Homo sapiens: one gene and its partners. The protein of the gene in region 3 interacts with the protein of the main gene of each other region in a pairwise test. Each region holds a gene or a part of one and is shown on either strand. Other genes may lie near its edges.

What was found.
Region 1: the proteins of TBC1D1 (region 3) and TCEA2 interact in binary tests that used the Homo sapiens proteins (3 or more experiments, as listed by UniProt).
Region 2: the proteins of TBC1D1 (region 3) and PNKP interact in binary tests that used the Homo sapiens proteins (3 or more experiments, as listed by UniProt).
Region 4: the proteins of TBC1D1 (region 3) and FAM161A interact in binary tests that used the Homo sapiens proteins (3 or more experiments, as listed by UniProt).

What each region holds. Positions count from the first base shown.
Region 1 is NC_000020.11:64,066,178-64,072,859, forward strand, and holds the end of TCEA2 (transcription elongation factor A protein 2), read left to right. Parts: intron 1-69; exon of another isoform or gene 70-155; intron 156-228; exon of another isoform or gene 229-298; coding exon 299-361; intron 362-737; coding exon 738-843; intron 844-1,869; coding exon 1,870-1,957; intron 1,958-3,183; coding exon 3,184-3,314; intron 3,315-3,587; coding exon 3,588-3,644; intron 3,645-4,082; coding exon 4,083-4,237; intron 4,238-4,311; coding exon 4,312-4,458; intron 4,459-5,692; coding exon 5,693-5,764; coding exon of another isoform or gene 5,765-5,848; exon of another isoform or gene 5,849-5,994; coding exon 5,995-6,003; 3' UTR 6,004-6,170; downstream 6,171-6,682. UniProt on the Homo sapiens protein: Necessary for efficient RNA polymerase II transcription elongation past template-encoded arresting sites.
Region 2 is NC_000019.10:49,860,672-49,864,576, reverse strand, and holds the end of PNKP (bifunctional polynucleotide phosphatase/kinase), read left to right. Parts: intron 1-173; coding exon 174-253; intron 254-340; coding exon 341-398; intron 399-505; coding exon 506-613; intron 614-816; coding exon 817-888; intron 889-1,838; coding exon 1,839-1,887; intron 1,888-1,968; coding exon 1,969-2,039; intron 2,040-2,113; coding exon 2,114-2,206; intron 2,207-2,295; coding exon 2,296-2,392; intron 2,393-2,471; coding exon 2,472-2,533; intron 2,534-2,695; coding exon 2,696-2,805; intron 2,806-2,881; coding exon 2,882-2,969; intron 2,970-3,066; coding exon 3,067-3,128; intron 3,129-3,211; coding exon 3,212-3,329; 3' UTR 3,330-3,373; downstream 3,374-3,905. UniProt on the Homo sapiens protein: Plays a key role in the repair of DNA damage, functioning as part of both the non-homologous end-joining (NHEJ) and base excision repair (BER) pathways.
Region 3 is NC_000004.12:37,886,438-37,894,094, forward strand, and holds the start of TBC1D1 (TBC1 domain family member 1), read left to right. Parts: upstream 1-4,646; 5' UTR 4,647-4,911; intron 4,912-7,657. UniProt on the Homo sapiens protein: May act as a GTPase-activating protein for Rab family protein(s). May play a role in the cell cycle and differentiation of various tissues.
Region 4 is NC_000002.12:61,837,045-61,844,076, reverse strand, and holds part of FAM161A (protein FAM161A), read left to right. Parts: intron 1-1,716; coding exon 1,717-1,955; intron 1,956-3,495; coding exon 3,496-4,656; intron 4,657-5,371; coding exon 5,372-5,539; exon of another isoform or gene 5,540-6,132; intron 6,133-7,032. UniProt on the Homo sapiens protein: Involved in ciliogenesis.

The DNA of each region.
Region 1 (6,682 bases), on a different chromosome or scaffold from region 3:
AGGTGGTTACAACGAAGTCAGTGAGGTCATTGCCACGGATGTGGGTTACAACTTGGAATGCTTGAGGCTGCAGAACCCCTCCCCTTCTTGACTGAGCAGTAAGGGTTCCCTGCTGTGGTGCAGGAACATGTGGGCAGAGCCCTGGGTGTCTCCAGGTAGAGGAATTTTGGTTTCTTTTTGACCCCAGGTTGAATCTCCAAATTGTCACTGCCTTGTGTTCTCCTCCAGTAGGCAGAAGGAGGTGATATTGTCTGTTGAGATCTAAAGTCCTTTATGAAGGTCCTCCTTCTCCTTCCAGGAGGGAGCCATGGATTTGCTGCGGGAGCTGAAGGCCATGCCTATCACGCTGCACCTGCTCCAGGTAGGTCCCTGCCTGCCCCAGGTCCAGGACAGCTCCTGGGTGCAGCCCAGGGGATGGCAGTTCTGAGGGCACCTGGCAGGGCTTCCCCACCCTCCCCACCAGGCCTTAGTTGGCACAAATGCCTGTTCCTGAGGAGAGGGTCTCTGCCTTTCTCTGGGCTCAGTGGGACAGGGAGGGGAGTCTGAGGATAACCCATCTTGTCCTCCGTGGCTGAGGCTCCTGGGTTCCAAATGGGACAGTCGCCATTGGGAGAGGCCTCTACCTCCCTGGGAGGTCCCGGGCTCCTGTCCTGTGGGGGCCACCAAGGCTCTGCCAGGAGAATCTGACCCCTAGGGTGGGCCCCTGCCTCCCCCAACCCAGACCACTTGCCTCGTAGTCCACCCGAGTCGGGATGTCTGTCAACGCCCTTCGGAAGCAGAGCTCGGATGAGGAGGTCATTGCACTGGCCAAGTCTCTCATCAAGTCCTGGAAGAAGCTCCTGGGTGCGGCTCAGGCGGTGCCCACTGAGTGCTGGGGCAGGGGTCCCAGAAGTGCTGCCTCTTGCTGGTCAGCACAGTGTAGAGTGCTGGCAGTGTCCACCCTGAGCCAGGTCGCTTGGGAGTGGGGCAGTGGCAAACCCAGACCATGAAGCGCCCAGCTTGGGGCTGGCAGTGGATCAGTGGGTGCCTGTCAGCATTGGCTGGGAGGTGTGGCCTAGGAGGCCAGGGTGTGTGCTGGGGGCAGGGTTCCAGGTAGAACAAGGAGAGAAGAGAGTTGAGGCCAGGACTTGAACTGACAGCACTGAGAGACTGGGGTGAGTTGGGAGGTCACACAGAGGGGAAGGTCATGGCCAGGAGGCTGGGAAGTGCCGGGAGAGGGGAAGCGGGAGGGAGAAGGCAGGGCCACCTCAGCTACTCAGAGGGAACAGAGGGGCAGCCCCCTGCCAGGGAAGGGAAGGGCTGGGCTGGGCTGGGCTGGACTGAAGGCTGCCTCTTCCTGGAGACAGTGGGGTGACTGGGGTTGCAAAGATGCTGCTGTCTGGGATGGAGGCAACCCTCCTAGCTCTGTCCACACCCTTGTGAAACAGTCTCTCTCCAGCCCTGTGTGGCCCTCAGGCTGTGCATGGCACAAGCATGTCCTGGTCCCCAGCCCTTGGGCCTGGCTCTGGGCTTTCAGGAAGAGCCTTCTTGGGGACATGCTTGGTCTCTCTGGCCAGGACAGGCAGGAGGGTGGGCCCCAGAGAGGCCCCAGAGGTGGCCTTTGTGAGTGGGTGCTTGTACGGGAAAGGGTTCTGGGGAGGCAGCCTCAGGACTGCAGAGATGGACAGGTTGCTGGGGAGGGTGAGGACCTGTTCACAGAGGCTGGGCAGCCTCCTGGCCCCTGGCTCCCCTGGCTGGGTGAGGGGCTGGGGGCGGGGGCTGGGGCTGGGGCCGTGTTGGTGGTCGGGCTGAGGCTGTACCTTGGTGGTGGTCTGTGCCCCTCCCTCCTCTGCCTCCCCTTGATCAGCCCATCCCCGATCTTTCCTGCAGATGCTTCCGATGCCAAAGCCAGGGAGCGGGGGAGGGGCATGCCTCTGCCCACGTCCTCGAGGGATGCCTCAGAGGCCCCGGATCCCAGGTAGCACACCTGGAAGGCAGGTGCACACACTTCTGCTTCCCAGCCTGTTTCCTTGCCAGAGAAAGGGTGCCAGTCTCCATGTGCCTAGGCACTGCTTTGAGGCTGCACACAGAGTCGGTCAGCCTCATGCTGGACACCAGCCTTGTGGTGTGTCCCGCCTGCACTGACCACTTGAGATGTGGGTCTGTGTCCACCTGGCTGTCAGCCAGCCATCCTGGCCTCTTCCTCTGCCAAGAGCTGCTGTATACCCTGAGTGGGCCTGTGGGAGCCCCCTGGCCTCTTCCCCCAAGGCCCCCTGCTGGGTCTGGTTCTTGCTGGCCCACTCTGGCTTCCCCCTCAGCCTCACTCAACGACGGTCCCTCCTTCCTGCAAAATTCTGCCCAGAACCAAAGGCGGGGGCCAACTCCCCTCCTGCCCTGCATGTGCACGTGTGGTCACTGCTGCCAGGGGGTGATAAGGGCTCTGTGGCCTGCAGCTGGGAGCTGGGGGTGCTTATTGTGGCAGGCTATAGCCGAGAGATGGCTTTGCCCTTGACCACACTGGGTTGTGGTGACTGGGCCACCAGGAGCTCAGGGACACCTTTGCAAGTTGATTTTCCTCCAGGAAGCTGCCTGCTTCTGCCAACTTCCACAGAGGGGATGAGGGGAGGGCTAGGTGGATGCAGCCTGGTCGTTGGGCAGCCCCATGTTGGGGTCCAGCCCTGAGGGGCATCCTTCTCCCATTCTGTACGTGCCCAGGGGTGTCGTCTGTGACAGCAGAACCTGGCCTTGGGCGGCCCCGCCTTGTCTCCCCCCAGACAGCTGTGGGTCTCTCCCTCTCCCTGACCAGGCAGCAGCTGCAGCTGCCCTCAGCAGAGTATTTGTGTTGCGGCCCAGTGGGTGGGCACCCCAGAGGTGGCAGGAACTGCCAGGTTCATTCTGATCGACTGGTAATGCTGCCCAGATGCTGACTGCTGGGTCTGGGATCCTGTTCCCACCTGGAGAGTACACCCTGACCCACTGGGGACCTCATGGCCCTCTCCCTCCTGGCTGCTGGGCACACCCCATGGACATCTGGGCTGGACTCAAGATAGGCAGGGCCACAGGCCACTGTTGGACTCTGGCAGAGTAGAACAAGCAGGGGTTGGTGGGGGATTATGCTGTGGCACCTGCTGCTTCTAGGACCAGTGTCTCGCTGGGGTGCCTGCAGCCTTGAGTCTGAACCCAGCTGGCCCTGGCTCTCTGCAGCCGCAAGAGGCCGGAGCTGCCCAGGGCACCGTCGACTCCGAGGATCACCACATTTCCTCCGGTGCCTGTCACCTGTGATGCCGTGCGCAACAAGTGCCGCGAGATGCTGACCGCTGCCCTGCAGACGGACCGTGAGTGCGGCCGGCCCTGGCTCCTGACACCCGCTGTGGTTCACAGGGTGGCCCGGGCCCCTGCCTGCCCGCAGAGGCCTGCTTCCAGCGGGGTGACTGTCCTCCCCCAGCCCATTGCTGTGGCCCTGGCAGGGGCTAGGGGCCTGTGCCTGGATCGTGGGCCTCTTGCAGGGACCCGGATGTGCCCTCTAAGCTGCCAGGGTGTTTTGCAGGCAGAAGGGGTGGCAGGTGGAGAAACCAGTGGGGGAAGCTAGTCAGGGCTCCCTCTTGCAGATGACCACGTGGCCATCGGTGCGGACTGCGAGCGCCTGTCGGCTCAGATCGAGGAATATATCCTTTGGGTAGGGGCTGTGGGCCTGGGTTTCTGGTGGAGTCAGGAGGCTGCCTGGCCTGGTGCCCTCTGGTGGCTGCTGGATGCCACTGCCCAGCTGTCCAGGGGTCACCTGCCTGGGTGGTCACCTGCCTGGGTGGTCAGGCTGTCTCACCTCAGGAGGGCCCCCGGACCAGCTGAAGGGCTGATTCTGTCTGCTTGTGGGGCCTAGGTCCCCTGGGGCTGTAGCCTGAAGCTGGGTCTCAGTCAGGAATGGGCCTGGGGCAGGCTTGGCCCTGCAGCCCTTCACCTCTCCACCAGGTGTGGGTGGGCAGACCGACCCCTGTGTGGCTGGGCAGAACCTTTCCAGCCCCCACCCCAACATGGCCCCCAGCGGGGCAGGTGGTAGGTGGAGGGCAGCGACGTTGTCCTCAGGTGGGTCCTTAAAACACTTGCACGCATCTTCCGGGACGTTGGAAACACAGACATGAAGTATAAGAACCGTGTACGGAGTCGTATCTCCAACCTGAAGGATGCCAAGAACCCTGACCTGCGGCGGAATGTGCTGTGTGGGGCCATAACACCCCAGCAGATCGCTGTGATGACCTCAGAGGTGAGCCCCTGTTGGAGGGGCTGGAGGGCTGCTCCCTCGGAGCGGTGGGCTAAGCCACTGGCCCCGTGCTCCAGGAGATGGCCAGTGATGAGCTGAAGGAGATCCGTAAGGCCATGACCAAGGAGGCCATCCGAGAGCACCAGATGGCCCGCACTGGCGGCACGCAGACAGACCTGTTCACCTGCGGCAAGTGCAGGAAAAAGAACTGCACCTACACACAGGTGAGCGGCCGCTGGGCACCCTCCCCCGGGCCCGGTGTCTTCAGGGCATCTGGTGCCCCTCCTTGGAGCCCATGCCTATTCCCGCCTCTGCTGCATGAATTTCCCGAGCCTCTCAGTCCCTGAGTAGGCTAAGGCATGATGGCCACCTTCAGGGACCACTCCCCTCTACCCAGGACCTCTGGGCTCCACGGGGCGGCGTCTTGGGTGGTGGGACCCACTTGTTGCGGATACTCAAGTCAGAGGGCCTGGCCTGGCCCAGCCCAGCCTGAACGGAGGGCCCTCGAGGTGTTGATGTTGGTGGGAGGGCCGTGCTGCCTGCTGCCTGGCAGTGACTGCAGGACCCTCAGTCCCTGCCATGGAGGTGGACACTGAGTGTGCTGGGGAGACTGTGGATCCCATGAGATGGCAGGGACCCTGTTAAGAGGGGAGTGCGGCTGGGTGCAGTGGCTCACATCTGTAATCCCAGCACTTTGGGAGGCCGAGGCAGGCGGATAATGAGGTCAGGAGTTCGAGACCAGCCTGACCAACATGGTGAAACCCCGTCTCTACTAAAAATACAAAAATTAGCTGGGCGTGGTGGCGCATGCCTGTAATCCCAGCTACTCAGGAGGCTGAGGCAGGAGAATCACTTGAACCCGGGAGACAGAGGTTGCAGTGAGTCCAGATCGTGCCACTGCTCTCCAGCCTGGGCGACAGAGCGAGACTCCGTCTTTAAAAAAAAAAAAAAGAGGGGAGTGTGTCGAGGCGGCCGCTGCACCTGGCAGATGGGACTCGTGAGGGGCTGCAAGGACAGCCTTTCCTTCCCCTCGAAGGCTGCATGGGGCCTGGGTCGGTGCAGAGCCTGCCTCTCTCCTGCTCCCAGCCACTGGTCAGAACAGGCTCTGCCTGTGGCCGGAGGCTCACCCTTGGGCCTTCCGGAAGGCAGCCGCGGGCACTGGGGACCCCTGCTAGTTCCCCCCACCATTGGGACCCTCTTGCCCTCAGCCAAGTCTGGGCCCTCCTGGTCCCCAGCCAATGTGAGCTGCTTCAGGCTCACACAAGGGCCTCTGCCCCGATAAACTCTGTCTCCCTCCCCCGGAGGCTCAGCTTTGGAAGGTTGGAGTCACGAGGCGGCCTCGGATCAGGTCACCTGTGGGAGCTCAGTGGCTGCGAGGCCCGCACTGCCCATGTTGAGGGGATGCCGTCTGCAGCGGAGCATGGAGGTGACCCTGGGTTCACCCAGCCCTGTTCACAGGTGCAGACCCGCAGCTCTGATGAGCCCATGACCACCTTTGTTGTCTGCAACGAGTGTGGAAACCGCTGGAAGGTGGGTGAGCAGGCTCAGGCTGCCCCTCCCAGCTCCATTCTCTGGAGGTGGGGTGTCTCAGCCTCTGTGGGGTCTGTGGTGTGAACTGGGGATGGCCCTGCCCAACCAGCCTCCTGGGAGTCTTGGGCATGGTGGGTGGAGAGCCCAGCCTTGGGTGAGCCTGTGCGGCCTTCCACTCTGGGGGATCTCATGTGGCCACAAGGCTGGAGGCCTCACCCCCTTTCTCGCAGTTCTGCTGACCCCTCGTGTAGATGTGCTGCAGCCTTGGGCCCTCCCCGGCCCACGTCCTCCGTTGACACAGCTTCTCTGGAGACCCTAGAAGGCGGCATGTCCTGCCCTCAACCTGCCTGCCTGGATTGCACCTTTCTGCCCTTTCCCCCTCATTATTAAATGTTTCTTTTTGCCATCTTGTTCTCCTCAGCCGTTACTCCTGGTGGGCCCCTGTCCCCCATGTTTGACCCGTTTCCACTGCTGTGGACAAGGCCCCTCCCTGGGGTTGGGCAGTGCTTGGGTTTGGCCCTGGTGGGTCAGCCCCAGGAGAGGAGCTTGGCTGACCTTCAGAGATCACCTGGGGCGGCTCTGCCTGTGAGGGCAGGTGGGGAGAGGGTCTTGTGTGCGTCCTGTGCAGGGCAGTGTCCTCCCCAACGCCTCAGGCATGGGCAGCTCGGGACCTCTCGGCACTTCAGGACAGCTTGTCCCCATGCTGCCTTCTCTGTTCTTGTGGGAGTTGTGGTCTCAGGGCCCTGAGCCAATTTCAGCTTCAACTCACTTAACTTCCCAGAAATGCAGGGGATGGGCTGGTGAGCACTCAACTCATGGGGCCTGTGAGATGAGAAAGATGACATTGGGCCTGGCACCAAGTGGCCCCTCCTGCCCCAGCCAGCCTGCCTCTGGGGACCCCGTCCGGCTGGGCCTGGG
Region 2 (3,905 bases), on a different chromosome or scaffold from region 3:
CACTCAGAGGCATCACGGATGCTTGAGATGGAGGTGCTCTGTGACTCGGTTTCCCCATCTGTGAGATGGCAGTGATAACACCCTGCCTGGCAGGGTTGGTGTGAGTCAGCCTGTGAGTGAGGAGGGTCAGAGGTATCACAGTGCTGCTGTTTGTCTTTCCTTGGTGACACCAGGTGGCTGGCTTTGATCTGGACGGGACGCTCATCACCACACGCTCTGGGAAGGTCTTTCCCACTGGCCCCAGTGACTGGAGGTGATAAGAGGCAAAACAAGGGAGTGAGTGAGGCCTGGAGTCCACCTCTGGCCCCGGGTCACCCCTGCCGCTTCATACCTGCCGTAGGATCTTGTACCCAGAGATTCCCCGTAAGCTCCGAGAGCTGGAAGCCGAGGGCTACAAGGTATGTGCAGCCGCCTGTCTGCATGGGCACGTGCACGTGGCGGTCCGACCGCAGTCAGACCAAGGCCCTGGTGAGCAGAGCGTCTGGTGACACCCTTTGCTCCCCAGCTGGTGATCTTCACCAACCAGATGAGCATCGGGCGCGGGAAGCTGCCAGCCGAGGAGTTCAAGGCCAAGGTGGAGGCTGTGGTGGAGAAGCTGGGGGTCCCCTTCCAGGTATGGCTGGAAGGGAGGCTGGGAGCTATGTGGGGGCACAGAGATCCAGAGCGAGGGCTTTAGACTCCAGGGTAAGCGGGGCGGAGGCCTCAGGCAGTGTGATGCTGATAGGAACCCATCATCAGCTACAAATTCTGGGCTGGGGTGGCATCCAGTAGGTGCTTGAGGGGGAGCTAAAGCTGGTGGCCCCCTCCCATCCACAGGTGCTGGTGGCCACGCACGCAGGCTTGTACCGGAAGCCGGTGACGGGCATGTGGGACCATCTGCAGGAGCAGGTGAGTCTTGCAGCCTGCCCGGCCCCCCTCCTTTTCCTCACTCCAGCCCCTCACTCCTGGGCTCCCCGGCCTCCGGTTGGGGCCTCCTTACTCCTCTGTCCTCTCTCGCTCCCTCCTTCTGTTTTTTGCTGTGACATCTTAGATGTTGGTTTACGAGACCAGTGCTTTCAGACTTTCTACATCAGAGTAGTAGGGAAGCTGTTCATTCCTTCGTTCATTCGTTTGTGTGTGCATTTGTTCTGAAGTTTAGCGCATTCTTGAGCTGAAGGTATCAGTGAGCGGGACGGCCTGCTCCAGCAGGGCCCTCACGGCGAGGGCGGTGACTCTAGGCGGATGGGCAGACTGGCGTGTAAAACAGCAGGAGGGAGGGAGCTGGAGAAAGCAGGCATCACCCGTGGTGGGCAGGGATGGCCTCTGAGGAGGTGACATCAGAGGAAAAGGCCTAAGGCAGGGAAAGGAGGGAGCCAGGTGGACACCTGGGGAAAGCGGTCCCCCCCCTTGTGGGAGTGACAGCAAGTGCAAAGGCCCTGAGGCAGTCCCTAGCCTGGGCTAGTTAGGGACAGCGAGGCCCATGCGGCTGGCTCTAAGCGAGGGAGGGGAGAGGGCAGGGCCACAGGGAGGGCCCCGCTTTTGCCCTGAGGGAGGGGGAACCTGGGAGGCGCCGGCACGCCGGAGGCTGGAGCTGTAGCAGGGTGGGTGCCCTCCGGTGGCCGCGTGGGGAACGGGAGGAGGTGAAGTCGGGAGACCTGGAGGGAGGGGGCTGTGTGGAGAGACCACGGAGGGGGGAGGGGGCCAGGAGCACGGTGCAAAGTGGCTGGAGAGTGAGGACATGAAAGGTCGGGGGATGATTCCTGATGTGGGGCACAGACCAGGCGAAGCAGCCCCAGGGACCCGCTACCGCTGCGGGGGGACATTTGTGGGAAGGGCCTCCTCACTACCGTCTCCCGTAGGCCAACGACGGCACGCCCATATCCATCGGGGACAGCATCTTTGTGGGAGGTAAGGGCCTGGAGGCTGCTGAGGGTGGGCTGGGACGCCTCCCTCCGAGCTGGTGGGAACGGGGTGTCCCGTGTGTTCCAGACGCAGCCGGACGCCCGGCCAACTGGGCCCCGGGGCGGAAGAAGAAAGACTTCTCCTGCGCCGATCGCCTGGTGAGGCCCCTGCCCCCTGCCCCGCGCCCGAGCCCGACCCTGGCCTGTGTCTGATGTTCGTCCTCAACCCCTAGTTTGCCCTCAACCTTGGCCTGCCCTTCGCCACGCCTGAGGAGTTCTTTCTCAAGTGGCCAGCAGCCGGCTTCGAGCTCCCAGCCTTTGATCCGGTGAGGCCCTGGGGCGGGGGTGGGGGTGGGGATGGGAGGGCTCCCGGGGATGGGGACGGCATCTCACGCGTGTCCCCCGCCCCTCGCAGAGGACTGTCTCCCGCTCAGGGCCTCTCTGCCTCCCCGAGTCCAGGGCCCTCCTGAGCGCCAGCCCGGAGGTGGTTGTCGCAGTGGGATTCCCTGGGGGTAAGTGTCCTGTTCCTGTGCGCGTGCCCTGAGCCCCGCCTGGGTCCTAGGCCACCCACCGACACTGCCCCCCACACAGCCGGGAAGTCCACCTTTCTCAAGAAGCACCTCGTGTCGGCCGGATATGTCCACGTGAACAGGGTATGACCAGGCTTTTGCCGCCCCAAATCTATTATAAAGTTCCCATCTCCACCTCTCAACTGGTTTGGGGCGGCTTTCCTCCATCATTGCCTCCCCGTCCCCGCTCGGGGTCTTCTCTCCCCCTGGGTCTGCCGATCTGTTTGTGACCTCTCGTGTCCCCAGGACACGCTAGGCTCCTGGCAGCGCTGTGTGACCACGTGTGAGACAGCCCTGAAGCAAGGGAAACGGGTCGCCATCGACAACACAAACCCAGACGCCGCGAGCCGCGCCAGGTAGCGTGACCGCGGGGCCGTAGGTGGCCTGCGGCGGGGTGGGCGGGGCCTGCACATCCAGCTCCTTCCCCCACAGGTACGTCCAGTGTGCCCGAGCCGCGGGCGTCCCCTGCCGCTGCTTCCTCTTCACCGCCACTCTGGAGCAGGCGCGCCACAACAACCGGGTGAGCCCGCTCAGCCCGGACACCCCCCGGGCTGCACCCCCTGACCCCCCTCCTCCCCTGACCCCTGGGCCTGCCGCCCCTCTGATGTTCCCCACAGTTTCGAGAGATGACGGACTCCTCTCATATCCCCGTGTCAGACATGGTCATGTATGGCTACAGGTACTGTTGGGGATAGCAGGGGGCAGGGGCACTGGCTGGGCCACATGATCCAGGCTGTCCCTCACTGTTCCCACCACTGCCAGGAAGCAGTTCGAGGCCCCAACGCTGGCTGAAGGCTTCTCTGCCATCCTGGAGATCCCGTTCCGGCTATGGGTGGAGCCGAGGCTGGGGCGGCTGTACTGCCAGTTCTCCGAGGGCTGAGCCCCGCCCAGCTCCCCTCCACAATAAACGCTGTTTCTCCTTGAGCTTGGCCGGCATTTTGCTGGAAGGAGGGTGGTCCCCACGGGGGAGGGGCTCCAGGCCTGCCAGTTTCTTACATGGAGGAGGCTTTAAGGACATTTTCAGGTAACAAAAGGTGGGGCCCTACCGAGGGGAGTCCAGCTGGGACCTGGCATGAGCACTTTAGACATTAGCCGGGGAACACACAGGGAGGGCGCTGTGTGGCCCCCCGAGAGCCAGCTGGTGAGCCCACGAGCCTCAACCGAGGGGCTGGCTCAAGGCCAGGTGTGACCCCTGAGGACAAAATCCAGCTCAGGTTCTGTGACACTGAACTTGAACCCAAGGCCTGCGGGTCTGGAGATTCGGGGGGGAAGAGGGTGTGGACAGCCGAGAGCCAGACCCAGTGAGTTCCCGGGCTGTCCAGCCTGCTGGGCCACCTTAGAGCTAGGGGGCTGCAAGGCATCGGGCAGTGAGCAGAGAAGGCAGGCAGGTTTTTAAAAGGCTTTATTGGGGAAACGTAGAGGGGTGGGGACCGTCCTTGGAGGCCTCAGGACACCA
Region 3 (7,657 bases):
GACAAAGAAAGAGAAAGAGAAAGAGAAAAAGAAAGAAAGAAAAGAAAGAAAACAAGATATTTGGGCATAACTTAACAGACTCTATGTTATTATTATTATTATTTAGAGACAGTTTCTCACTCCAACACCCAGATTGGAGTGTGGTGGTGTCATCACAGCTTGCTGCAGCCTCAACCTCCAGGGCTCAAACCATCCTCCCACCTCAGCCTCCTGGGTAGCTTGAACTACAGGTGTGCAACACCACGCCCAGCTAAGTTTTTTTTTTTTGTATTTTTTTATAGAGGTTTTGTCATGTTGCCTAGGCTCATCTCCAACTCCTGGGCTCAAGTGATCAGCCCACCTCAACCTCCCAAAGTGCTGGGATTATAGGATAAGCCACCACCCCAGCCTTCACAAACTCTTTAGATCTAACTGTTATGCCTTGGATTGACAGGGTTGGCAAATTACCTGGCGCTGGTGTTGCAATGCTGCCTCCTCCCATGCTTGAGGCAGGTGCTGCTTCTCAATCTTGCACCCTTTCCCACTGAGCATGGACTTGCCTTACAAGCCTCGTCCACTCAGGGCTCCAGAAAGTCACTATCAATCAATGGGAACAAGCATACCCAGTGAACCACCTTACTATCCTAGGGTTCTAGCCAGTATAGTCTTATTTTTTGCCTTTATTGATGCCATTTTTTGGAAATGGACCCACTACCTTATTATGCACATTTTGAATTTAAGTAAAAATATATAATAGCAATAGTTTGGATTCCTAACTAATATGAGCATTTAAATACCTAACTGATGGATTTAATGATGATTAATTTTGTTAAAGGTCTTCTTTCTACATCAACGAAAGATTTTAATTCTAGATGTATATATGGTTCCCATGGTTCCCTTAACTTTTTAAAAGTAAAGTGGCCTCTGTTTTCTTTCAGGCTCTGAGCTTTTCATGTGATTTAATAGCATCGATGGTTCACAATTTTCTAGAGCTCTGCAGCCATCTTAAAGCTGATATTAATGTTCCTGGCTTTTGGCAATGAATAACTAATTATGCTGCAAATAGCTAAATTAGGAAAGAGTCTATGGGAGAAGCCCTAAAAGAATGATCCATGGCAGGATTTTGGGAAGAGCTGGAGGTGCGGAAGTTGTCCAGACAGGAAAAGTGCAGCAGCCATGATGGTCGGTGCCTTCGCATCAGGGTTTTCACTCGCTGAGCCAATGGGTCCATAGCTGATGTCAGCTAAATGCCCATGGTGGTGAAGAGCTCCACACTCCTTGTGTTCCTGGGTCATACTCCGTCAGAAGAATCAGAAGCTGAAGCAGAATCATTGGAGCATTTGGCCCTATTCTCTGCTTGCTTTTGTTATCGGTGACTTAAAGAGGGACCAACAGAACACCTTCCTGGGCCTTGAGGGAGCTCTCTGTTGCCATCACCAAGGCCCCATTGGCCCACGCTTCTACCATGGTGTGTACCAGCTCTCCTGGGAGTCACGTGGCCACATATCAAGGGGAAGGAGCTACTTCCCTCCTAGAGCAATGGCACCTGCAGGTAAGAGCTGAGTGGTGAGCTCTTACTTCTGCACTCTGCACTGGGCCAGTATGGATCTCCCCAACCACATTTGACAGTCTTCATCCTGCCATACCAGGTATCACCATCTGCTTCAAAGTCCCCTTTACTATTTGTTCTACAACTGCTAGAAAACCTAAGGCCAAATAGATTGATAGCAAGCTGTCCCCTAATTTCTAAGATAATGCTGTATAGATTTTAAAAAGAATTTCAACAATCCTTATTGCATACTATAGAGGGAGTTCTGTTTCCCAGAAGTTGAAAGTATGGTAAAATCCCTCCTCATCATTCTTAGGGTGCTAGCTGTCCTGGGAGCTGGAAAAGTGATGCAGAAATTGCTGCTTCTCACAAGGCCATGACCTCTCCCTAACCTAGGTAAGGGTCAAGGCAAATGGTCATTTGCCACTAAATTATAAATCTCTGAGCTGGAACTTGCTGGATGTCAATGCTTTGAGAGATATGAGGCCTGGGCCTGCATCTGGGCCCCACCCATCGACTTCCTACATCTGTATTCTGGTTAGGCACCCCGCCTGGCTGCCTACCTGTACTTAAGCCTTCCTGTACTCTGGGACTAGGGGTAAGGGTGAAGAGAGGGTAGAGGAGGTGAGCAAGTGAGGGAAAGAAAAGGTAGTGGAGTGGCAGGATGGGAGGGGGCTCTAGCCAGGATGTTCTGTAAGCAGAGCCCAGCAAATTATCTCTGTTCCCCTTGGCCTGACCCCTTTTCCCAGGAGCAGGGCCTGGCAAGCAGGGTTGTTAGGTAACAGTTTCAACCATCCTCTGGTGGGTTACATACAAAAAGCAGTTTACAGTGTCAATGAAATGAATGCTAGTGTACCTTTCTCGACCTCCTAGCACTCTGGAGGTAAATGTGTGCAGCAGGTCACTGCAGACAGGGAGAGAGAGTTCTACAACAGAGTTGAAGGTAAAAACATGAAATAATTTGGGATATGACCCAAGTGATAACAATATGGTTTAACTGGTTTACCTGGTCTTGTAACCTAAAGAATAATTTCCATAACCCAGTTAACATTCTACTCATTACAGTATTTATGACTGTATATTTCTTAAAAAAGAGTTGAGGCTATGCACACAAATAACTACTCAATGACAAAGAATGAGCTGAGGGCTACACAGTGGCCAGAGAGCAAGTATATTATAAAGGGCTTTGGATCTTGGAGATTCCAGCACCCACTAACCCTGTAGGCACTAACCTCTTACTTTTCTCCTTAGTCAAATGGATTTAACAATCTTTGCCCTGCAGAGTTTTTGAGCAAATTAGCAACAATATATAAGGACAGTATCTAGCACAATACCCCAAATCGACTAACTCCTCCGTAAAGAATAGCTACCACTATTGTGAGAGTTTTAAGTCAAGCTGTGAATAAAACTCTTGGGTCCACTTAAAAATACCTCCCCTGGATGTAAGCATCCAGGGAAATCAGGGAATGCCATAAGACAGCCCTAATCTAAAAGCCTACAAGAAGCTCAGTGGGCTTCAAGGAAGACACTGCTCTTGGTACGATGAGGAAACCTGGCCCTCTATTTGCCTCCTGGGCCACAGTAATATTGATAATAGCTGCTGCTTTTAGTTGAGGACCATGTACGTCTGTGTCACTGCACTGGCCACTTTACTTACACTTTCCTGCTTTGTCCTCACAAAGATCCTGTAAGGTGTGTATTGGTCCCATTTAGCAGGTAAGACAATGAAGACCAGAGGTCCAGCACCTTGCCTAAACCACACCTGCTGGGATTTGGATTCAAGTCCAACCGTACAGCTCAAACGCTCAGCCACTTCCCTAAAGTCCACCCCCAGCTACATTAAGTAAAAAAATCCAGAAAGATGCCACCTGGGGGTCTGGAACTGCCTCCTCCGAGCACCCGGCTCTCCCCTCCCTGCGGACTCTTCTCTGGAGAGGATGTGATGCTTCTTACTTTTCTCAGATCCCTCTCCCCACCCTGCGAGTGACGTTGCGCCTCTGTGCCTGGTGGGATAGGGATCTGGGAGCTTCGCCTGTTTTTTGCACACTGCCATCCCCTAGTCTTAGGGAGCGAGCTCTGTCCCGCTTTTCACATCTCCGCGTCTTTCCTTGCACTCTACATCACCGCTGGGAATGTCCCCAGACCTGATCGGGGCATGCACACTGGGGTGTGCGTGTGCGTGTGGTGTGTGTTCCTGCGCGTGTGCCGGGCTCGCGGGGCAGGAAAAAGCGCCTAATCCAGGCTCTGCGTCACTCCCGCAATTGGTTAGAAATGGAGTTTCCTGGTGTTTAATCCCGGGAGGGCACTTCGCCTTCGTTGTTTCCCAGAGTCCCTGATTTTCCTGCCTCGCATGCCAGCGCCCCATAGGGCATCCGTGCCTCAGTTCACCTCTTGCCATCCTCCAAGGACGGGGAGAAGGGGTAAGGCGGGGGAGAGCAAGGTGGCTTGGTCGCCCCCGGCCCCCGCCCCCCATGTTGTGTGCAGTTTCCACCACGTCTGTTTCGGAGGGAGAAGAGGAGGGTGCAGATGAGGCGAGGCGCCTTCGGGAGCGCGGAGAGCGGGCAGGCAGTGCCACCTGCTGAGAGCCACTCAGGCCGAGCAAGCGGCGGGCAGTGCCACCTGCTATAAATAGGCCGCCAAGGACAGGGTGTGCGACTGTACATCCCGCCACGAGGGCCTGCATCACGCGCGGGGCCCCGCGCCCCCGGCTCCCCAGGGAAACGCTGTGCCCAGATCCTGCGCAGGGGTCTGGATGGGGCGGCGGCCCGAGTACTTCCCCCCTATTCCCCCCACAGACACTGGCTGAGGATGGCCCGCGGGCTTGGGGGCGGGGGGTGGCAAGGAGGGGAGGGAGGCCGCGGCGGACCCGCAGTGCAGCAGCTGTTGCTCGCGTGTGACTCGCCCGTCCGGGCCGTGCTGCCCAGGCACAGTCACACGGCGCAGTGGGGAGGAGGAGGACACCGAGTCCCCCTCCCAGCTCCCCGGGGACCGAGTGGGGAGATCCCGGCTCCTGTCTTCCCCTCGCCTCCAGCGCGCTCGCCCAGGCTGGGAGGAGGAAACCAGAGCCGCGCGCAGACACCTCCTCCTTCTCCTCCTCTTCTTCCTCCTCCTCCTCCTCCTCCTCTTCGGCTGCTGCTCCTGGTGCCGCCACCGTCCGCCGGTGCCTGTTGCTGCCGCCGCCGCGGGACCTGCTGTGTCCTCAGCTGGGTGGAGAAGAGGCGGGCGCCGAGCCGAGGGGAGCCCCCTCCCCGTCCCCCCGCGGCGGGAAGAGCGCAGCCAGCCGGGTGCGATGGACTCCCCGCCCGCCCAGGCCGTCCCCAGGATGCCCCCAAGCACCTGCGCGTCCCGGCCCGGCCCCGGGCTCTGAGCGCGCCGCGGCACAGGTAAGGCGCTTCCTGGGGCTTCGTCCTGGCCACCCTGCTGGCTCCTCTCGGGGCGTCGCGGCCGCCCCCTCCCGCAGCACGCCCCTGCCCCGCCTGGCCGCGGAGGGGAAGGCATCTGGCCGCCCACGGACGCGAGGCCAGGGTCTCTCGGGGGAGGAAGTTCATTGCCATCTCGTTGCCCCCCTTACCCCCCCACCCCCGCCGCCCTTGGACGAAAGCGAAACCTTAATGTTGCTAGCGACCCGAGAGCTCCGCCGGCTTCTCCCCCAACCCCCGCCAGCTCACTGGTCCGCGCATCTCTCCCCTCCCCCCTCCCGCCAATTATCCTAGCGTGTTTGCAAGGCGACCAGATTGGAAAGAGTGTGGTCAGAGTGACCCCAAGCCACGCTTTAAAAGTTCAGGGTACTTTGCAGTAGTAACTTTGGCAGCTCCACCAGTGCGCGCAACATTTCTTTCTATGGGTACATCCTGTACCAGTCATTTTGAAACCCTGCTTCATTGTTTCTAGCCGCTTCCTGATGGCTCTGTGATTATGAGACCCCCCTCAAACTTCACCAGGCATTAAGGTTTTGTTTTTGCTTTTTTTTCAGAGAGGTATCATTTCGTTTGAAATCCACCTAGATGTGGCTTTTCCTGTTTTGATTTTACTTAACATAGCTTATTCTCTGGAAGTTGCTTTAAAAAGAAATTGAAAGTGATGGTTGTTCCTTCCACCAAACAGTTTAATTTTCAGGGTGCCTCATATTAATGGATATGTTTTCCCTTCATAGATTTCTCATTGTTTCCCTTATGATGGGATGATTTCATTTATTAATAAAATCAGACTTTGAAAGAGCATTTAAAAATGACCTGGTTTAAATAGGTCACACCCAAGAAACTCAGCTATCTGTACAAGTTCAAACTTCTAAACTTTTTCAATGAGCTAGGGGTGGTGGCACCCACCTGTAGTCCCAGCTACTTGGGAGGCTGAGGCAGGAGGATCACTTGAGCCCAGGAGTTCGAGGCCATAGTGAGCTATGACTGTGCCACCTCACTGGAGCCTGGGTGACAAAGTGAGATCCCATCTCTTAAAAAAAAAGAGTTTAGGGGACATTTTCTGAAGTGAACACAAGTAGAGCATTCTAACACTATTGAGTGCAAGGAGACCTGGAAGGGACTAAGTGGTTCAAAGCAGGAAATAAAATCATCAGGTGATAATTAAAATAATTTCTTTCCTGTGGATTTGTCCAGCCATTTGCAAACCAGGAGAATAGGAAAAAAAATCACTAGTGTAGTTATAAATTATTACATTACGTTTTCAAAGGAAAATTTTGCAAATGCGTCTCCTTGTCATAGTCTATTGTTATCTACCCCACTGAGAGTGCTGGGGCTTCCCCTTTTCACCACGACAGCATTTCTGGTTGGGTGGCAGTCATGCAGTGTTGACCTGGTGTCCCATAAGGCACAGTTTGTCAAAACACTAGTGGGTATTAGGAGGAAACGTGCAACTCTGAAGCAACAGAGCTTGCCCCTTCTTCCTCATTATCCAGCTGGTGATAATCCCTGTCCCCCACTTCCCTAGAAGACAGCTTTGACCAGGAAGGCTGCAATGACAATGAGATGTACCCCTATGCAGAGCCAGATGTGGGCGGGTGGCTTTTTTGTGGTCCAGATCTTCTAGGATCTTCTAGGATGTAACCCTGGCAAGCAGTGGGGAGCCTGAATCAAGCAGCATGGCTGTTACCTCTTCTGTGTTCACAGCAGCATCTTCAGTTGTCTTGGTGCCTGGAGCAGGCACCACAGCTGCCTGCTCTGTTGGCCACCAGCTTTCTAGAGTAGATGGTAGGGAGGAGAGCAAGGGGCTCAAGAGGATTCTGTCTTTGAACATGCTTTTAATTTGATCTGACAGAATGGCAGCTCCCTGAAGTCCTTCCTACTCTCTCCACAGCATTTCTCTGTAGGTCCCCAGTTTTTGCTCTTTTCAGATTCCCAGAGGACTGAAAATGTATCACGGCCCATTTGGGGACTTCCTGTATATGTGTGGGTGCCTCAGGATCATTTGTTTTGCCCTTTTCCAGTCTACCGTGCTGCCCTTCTCAAGTTTAATGACCACGTTAGTTTCAATATTTTATATATTTCTCAGCAGTTTTCATCTCTTGGTCATTAAACTTGAGAAGTAAAATCTGCTCATTAAAATGACTGAGTCCATGGCCAGGCATGGTGGCTCATGCCTGTAATCCCAGCACTTTGGGAGTCCAAGGCGGGTGGATCACTTGAGGTCAGGAGTTCGAGACCAGCCTGGCCAGCATGGCAAAACCCTGTCTCTACAAAAATATAGATCTACAAAAACTAGCCAGGCATGGTGGCATGTGCCTGTAGTCCCAGCTATTTGGGAGGCTGAGACAGGAGAATCGCTTGAAGCCAGGAGGCGGAGGTTGCAGTGAAACATGATCGTGCCACTGAGTCCATTCAGCAGCAGAGTAGTGTTGGGGTTTGTATCCCTGTAGTGATGACGAAGGATTTAGGTTTTCAGTCAGAACTGTTACCTTACAATTTCCTTCACTGACTTTTCTTCCTTTCCAACACCACATTCCAATAAAAAATATCTTTAGACCAGATTCTTCACGAAAGACATGAAGGTTTTCATGCTTCAAGGTTTTTGACTTTTTTTTTTTTTTTTGAAAGGAGTCTTGCTGTGTCACCCAGGCTGGAGTGCAGTGGCGTGATCTCAGCTCACTGCAACCTCCGCCTCCTGGGTTCAAGTGAT
Region 4 (7,032 bases), on a different chromosome or scaffold from region 3:
CTGCCTCCCAGGTTCACGCCATTCTCCTGCTGCAGCCTCCCGAGTAGCTGGGAATATAGGTGCCCGCCAGCACACCTGGCTAATTTTTTGTATTTTTAGTAGAGATGGGGTTTTGCCATGTTAGCCAGGATTGTCTCAATCTCCTGACCTCGTGATCCACCTGCCTCGGCCTCCCAAAGTGCTGGGATTATAGGCGTGAGCCACCGTGCCCGGCCTCTGAAGACTGATTTTTTAAAAGTTGTTTTCTTTAAGTTACCCCAAGTAGTACAACATTGTCCTCTTGTATGCTGATTTTAGCGTATTAAAAAAAATACCATATCTTCTGAGAAGCCTCCAGTGGGAAACAAAAATACCACATCTATAACTACTATTTATAATTGACTCTTCTGAATTTTTATTTTGAGAGAAGCTAAACAGATTATTTTCTAGAGTCTTATCAGATTGGATCTATAATTTTCTGTAGCAAATTTTTTCATTTTGCATCTGTTCCAGACAGTAGGCTAAATTTAAAACTGTGGTTGGCAGCCTTTTATGCATAGTATCATAAATAATTTCAACTGTTTCTCAACTGAGAACATAATAAAAATTTTATATTTATGGAGAAAATGGGGTTTTATCTCTTTAGTTGCTTCAATTAAAAGAACTGAAAGGGTAGGGCACGGTGGCTCATGCCCATAATCCCAGCACTTTGAGAGGCCGAGGCGAGTAGATCACCTGAGGTCAAGAATTCAAGACCAGTCTGGCCAACATGGTGAAACCCCGTCTCTACTAAAATACAAAAATTAGCTGGGTGTGGTGGTGTGCGCCTGTAATCCCAGCTACTTGGGAGTCTGAGGCAGGAGAAGGCAGAGGTTGCAGTGAGCTGAGATGGTGCCACTGCACTCCAGCCTGAGTGACAGAGTGAGACTCCGTCTCGTAAAAACAAACAAACAAACAAAAAAACTGAAAGGTATGTAAAGGGAGTGAGGGAGAAAGGCCAGTCAGACCCTTCTAAACATGATCTGTATGTTGAATAATTACAGCATTTTTTCTTCTTTGCTTTGTTGTCATCCTAAAGTCCCGGTCACCCATGGGAGCTACTGCTTTTGTGCCCACAGAAGCAGCTACCCTGAAAGTCCCTCCTACCCCCTCCCATGTCCTCTTACTCCCTCCCAAAGTCTTGCCCCACTGTGAGGAGGGCTTCTCCCTGGCTCCTTGATAAGCCACTGAGAACTTTGTCCCTGCCCCCATTTCCTCTATTTCCCTGCCTTCTCTCCACTGGCAGTCCTTGGAGCCACACTGCAGGAGCGCAGCTGGAGGGAGAGCATTGGGCTGTGGTTGCCTGGTTTACAGCAGGTAGAACCGTGTTCCTCTTCATCTCAGTTAAAACTTACAACTCAGGAGGCTCCTTATAGAAATACTTTGTAAAGGGTTGTTGGGTTCTATCCTATTATACCTTTTGTTGGTTGATCTGGGAATTGAACCATCCTTTATCAAATGGATTAAATAACATTTATTTTCTGACAGTTTGGTCTTGCTCCCTCTCGTTCTTAAAATATCACTGGGGAAAATGTACATAGCCCACAAATAACCTATAACTCATTCTATATGCATAGCCCATAATTAATGTATAACCTAACTAGGTGGACTCTTTAAGAAGCAGCATTTTGGATCAGTGTCAGCTTAATTTGTCTTTCAGCTCCAGTCACTATATATCAAGTGTTTTCTCCCCACCAGGCTGATTTGAACACCAGCTTTTCTGGGGTGGATGAACATGCACCGATAAGCTATGAGGACTTTGTGAACTTTCCTGATATTCACCACTCTAATGAGGAGTATTTCAAGAAAGTAGAAGAGTTGAAGGCTGCCCACATAGAAACTATGGCAAAATTAGAGAAAATGTACCAGGATAAATTACATTTAAAGGAAGTTCAGCCAGTGGTCATCAGAGAAGACTCTCTTAGTGACTCTTCCAGGTAAGCTTGTAACTCAATGTTATTTGTGGAGTATAAAATAAAATGTATCCTTAAAAGGACAGAACAAAGTTACTTCATAATATTTTCTCTTAAATAGCCCTTTGTACTCCCAACGATATACAGAGGTAGGATTTTATTCAAAATGTTTAATGGCTTATCAGCTTACTGGATGACCGTTTGCTTGAGGGTCATTTGGTGGCCATTTGGTCTTTTCTTTCTGACCCACCCATAGAACTGAGGGCATGTATCAAAATACTTAGTCTGTGCCATTTTAACTGGTAAATATAAAAGTTTAATTTTAAAAGCTCTTTATAATATGTGGATTAACATGAGCTCATTAAAGATCTAGTACAAAGAGTTCAGGACTAGGAGACATGAATCTGATTTATGTTTTCAAAATAGTCTGCAATTTCAAGACCCATTTCTGCTGTGAACTCACCTGCTCTGAGACTTACACATCTAGTCAGTCAGCGATGCTTGCATGTCTCCTTTGTGCCAGACTATGCCTGGGCGCTGAGGAGTCAAAAACAAGATGCCCTCAAGGAGCTTAGAGACTAGCTGAGAACCAAAAATTGCATTACAGCATGATGTAACAGAGTGTTACAGAGGAAGAAGCAGTTGGTCATGCCAAGCTTTCAGAGGGATGCAGGCCAGAATTTTCCACTAAAGTGTCACATCTGAGTTCAGTCTTGGAGGAGGAATAAGTATTGGCCTTCTAGGCAGCAGAAACCATGTATGCAAAGGCAAGATGGCATGAGAAATCATATCGTGTGTGAGGAACTTCACAGGACTGGATATGAATGCAGAATGGAGACTGGGGTAGCCAGTGGTGAGGGGTAAGACTGAAAAGATAGGCGCCAGTCTCGAAGGGCTTGTAATCTAGGCTTGACTTCGTAGCAGTGAGGAATTATCAAAAAGTTTCAAGCAGGGGAATGACATGATCAGATCTATGCTTCAGGACAGTGACTCTGGAAAGTGGGGAGAATTTAATAGAGGTTAGACACAAGGACCCTCTGCCATCTCAGGTTCCTTCCCTGTAAAATGAAGGAGTCAAAGTGGATAATTTATGGGCATTGCCCAGCTCTATTCCAAATAAAAGTGATGATTCTTACAAGCCCTGTCCAGCTCCTCGCTTCTGATTATACCCTGATCTTAGAAAATATGTAACTCTTGGCTGGGCACAGTGGCTCATGCCTGTAATCTCAGCACTTTGGGAGGCGGAGGCAGGCAGATCACGAGGTCAGGAGATTGAGACCATCCTGGGTAACTTGGTAAAACCCTGTCTCTACTAAAAATGCAGAAAATTAGCTGAGCATGGTGGCACAAGCCTGTAGTCCCAGCTACTCGGGAGGCTGAGACAGGAGAATTGCTTGAACCTGGGAGGTGGAGGTTGCAGTGAGCCGATATCACACCACTGCACTCCAACCTGGGCAACAGAGTGAGACTCTGTCTCAGAAAAAAAAAGAAAATATGTAACTCTTAATTTTTATATTTGGTCACATACAACTGAAAGTATAACATAGTTATTCTTCTCATTTAGATCTGTATCAGAAAAGAACTCCTATCACCCTGTCTCATTAATGACATCATTTTCAGAGCCTGATTTAGGCCAGTCTTCCTCCTTGTATGTGTCCTCCTCTGAAGAGGAGTTACCCAACCTAGAAAAAGAGTATCCTAGGAAAAACAGAATGATGACCTATGCTAAGGAGCTCATCAACAATATGTGGACAGACTTTTGTGTTGAGGATTATATTCGCTGTAAAGATACTGGCTTCCATGCAGCTGAAAAAAGAAGGAAGAAACGAAAAGAATGGGTGCCCACAATTACAGTACCGGAGCCTTTTCAAATGATGATAAGAGAACAGAAGAAAAAAGAAGAGTCCATGAAATCTAAATCAGATATCGAAATGGTACATAAAGCGCTCAAAAAACAAGAAGAGGATCCAGAGTATAAGAAGAAATTCCGAGCCAATCCAGTTCCTGCATCTGTCTTTCTCCCCCTTTACCATGATTTAGTCAAGCAAAAAGAAGAACGGAGAAGGTCTCTGAAGGAGAAAAGCAAAGAAGCTCTTTTGGCCTCACAAAAGCCATTTAAATTTATAGCAAGGGAGGAACAGAAGCGAGCAGCCCGGGAAAAGCAGCTGAGAGACTTTCTTAAGTATAAAAAGAAAACAAATCGATTTAAAGCCAGACCCATTCCTCGATCTACTTATGGTTCAACTACCAATGACAAGTTAAAAGAAGAAGAGCTCTATCGAAACCTTAGGACACAGCTGAGAGCCCAGGAGCATTTACAGAACTCATCTCCTCTGCCTTGTAGGTCAGCTTGTGGATGCAGGAACCCCAGGTGTCCTGAACAGGCTGTAAAGTTGAAGTGTAAACACAAGGTTAGGTGCCCAACTCCTGATTTTGAGGACCTTCCTGAGAGATACCAGAAACACCTCTCAGAACACAAGTCTCCAAAACTCTTAACAGTGTGTAAACCATTTGATCTTCATGCATCTCCACATGCATCTATTAAAAGAGAAAAAATTTTGGCAGACATCGAAGCAGATGAAGAAAATTTAAAAGAAACACGTTGGCCTTATTTGTCTCCAAGGCGTAAGTCACCAGTAAGATGTGCAGGTGTAAACCCTGTGCCTTGTAACTGCAACCCTCCCGTGCCCACGGTATCTTCCAGAGGACGAGAACAAGCCGTAAGGTAAGTAAGTAGGACGCAGTACTGACTGACTCATGGTTGCCAGATGAGTGTATGCAGCTCTGTGGAGTTTATGTTGGTAAATTTGAAAATACTTAGAAATTATTATTGTATCTATAAGATATTTTACTATATAATATATGATATTTTGTCAGAGGGTATTCTAAGAAATGAATATATTTTTCATTTATAAATTTTGGGGGATTAGAAAATAATAGTCTTAAGATTTCTAGTTTTACCTGGCTGGGCACAGTGGCTTACACCTGTAATCCCAGTGCTTTGGGAGGTCGAGGCAGGTGGATCACAAGGTCAGGAGTTCAAGACCACCCTGGCCGAGATAATGAAACCCCCATCTCTACTAAAAATACAAAAAATTAGCTGGGCGTGGTGGCGGGTGCCTGTAATCCCAGCTACTCAGGAGGCTGAGGCAGGAGAATCGCTTGAATCCAGGAGGCAGAGGTTGCAGTGAGCCGAGATCACGCCATGGCACTCCAGCCTGGGCGACAGAGCGAGACTCCATCTCAAAAAAAATAAATAAATAAATAAATAAATAAATAAATAAATAAATATTTCTAGTTTTACAGGTCAGATCCTTTTCAAAAGGTTACCTTTTTTCAAATTTTGAATTATCAAAATTCAAATTATCCCATGTTAAATCTTTGCTAAACAACATTCTGATTGGCTTAAAGTGGATTAAGCCTTAGTTTGTTACCCTCAGGAGATCACTTGAGGAAAAGAAAATGTTGGAAGAAGAGAGAAATCGGATCCTAACTAAACAGAAGCAAAGAATGAAAGAATTGCAGAAACTCCTGACAACCCGGGCTAAGGCTTATGACTCACATCAAAGTTTAGCTCAAATATCTAAATCCAGAGTAAAATGTCTCAGGTATCATGAAAAAATCTTGAATCTCCAGACCACTGGTTTTCAAACTCTTTTTTTTTTAATCAGTAGATAGTAAAATATGAGCAGATTGAAAATAGCATTAGTGTTTTAGCTTATGGATTTAAATTGTCATCAGTTACTTGTGTTCAGTGCACACACACTCACCTCATGGTGAGAACCAACATATAAACTCACCTTTATGGTGAGAACCATGAAGCTATGTTGATGAATACAGACATTTTCTATTGTGGCCTTAGTTAATGGTTATAATCTTATACCAATATCTGATCTTGTTCTTTATATTATTTTTGATTGCAGTAAACAGATATATCAAAGAGCTTTGTTCTAAGGTTTGGATGAAATCTGATAGCACAAATTAACACGTTAAACATCGGTTATGTGATGTGTTCATTAGCACATATGTTAATGTTTAGTAGTATGTGTTGCATTTTGTTAGTTTCAATATAAAAATATTCACGGAATTCTTAGAACCCCTTCACTAGAATTTTGCAGTACAAAGTTTGAAAACCAGTGTTCCAGATGTTGCACATAAAAATGTTGATGTTTAAGTAGGAAACTATCTCCCTCAAAGCCAGGTAAGTAATGTGATTTATTACTTTTTAATCTGATTTCTAAATATGCATATGTGCTTTTAATTACAATGAGTATTCTTTTATAATTTAGCTTTAATCCATTGATAAAGGGAGCTTAATTTGATGAACGTGAGCATAATGTTTCTTAGAAATAGATTACTTACCCTTAGGAAGTAAACTATTAATAGCTTTTTATTTTTTATTTATTTATTTTTTTGAGACAGAGTCTCGCTCTGTCACCTAGGCTGGATCCCGAGTTCAAGCGATTCTCCTGCCTCAGCTTACAGAGTAGCTGGGATTACAGGTGCTCACCACCACGCCTAGCTAATTTTTGTATTTTTGGTAGAGATGAGGTTTTGCCATGTTGGCCAAGCTGGTCTCAAACTCCTGACCTCAGGTGATCTGCCTACCTTGGCCTCCCAAAGTGCTGGGATTACAGGCGTGAGCCACCGTGCCTGGACAATAGCTTTTTCATAACACCAACTTGTGTATAATTAAGCCTAATTATCATTTAAAAGTATAATTATTTTCCCCAATCCATTAATCTTATTTATCTTGGTAGCAATTATATCTTACATAGAGAAAATAGTGTAGTTTAATTTATTATAGGATCTTGCTCAAACAGTGAGAACACTTACGGTAAATTTATATATTTTGGTTCCTGTTTCTCTTTATGTTGTATTCCCATGCTCTTTACTTCTCCTTTGACTTGCTCCCATTGAATTAACTTTGCCACTAACCTGTAGGAGATCTTATTTAGGGGAAAAAAATAACAGCAAAGGCTGGATGCCATGGCTCACATCTGTAATCCCAACACCTCAGGAGTACAAGGCAGGAAGATTGCTTGAGCCCAGGAGTTTGAGACCAGCCTGGTAAACATAATGAGACCCCCATCTCTACAAA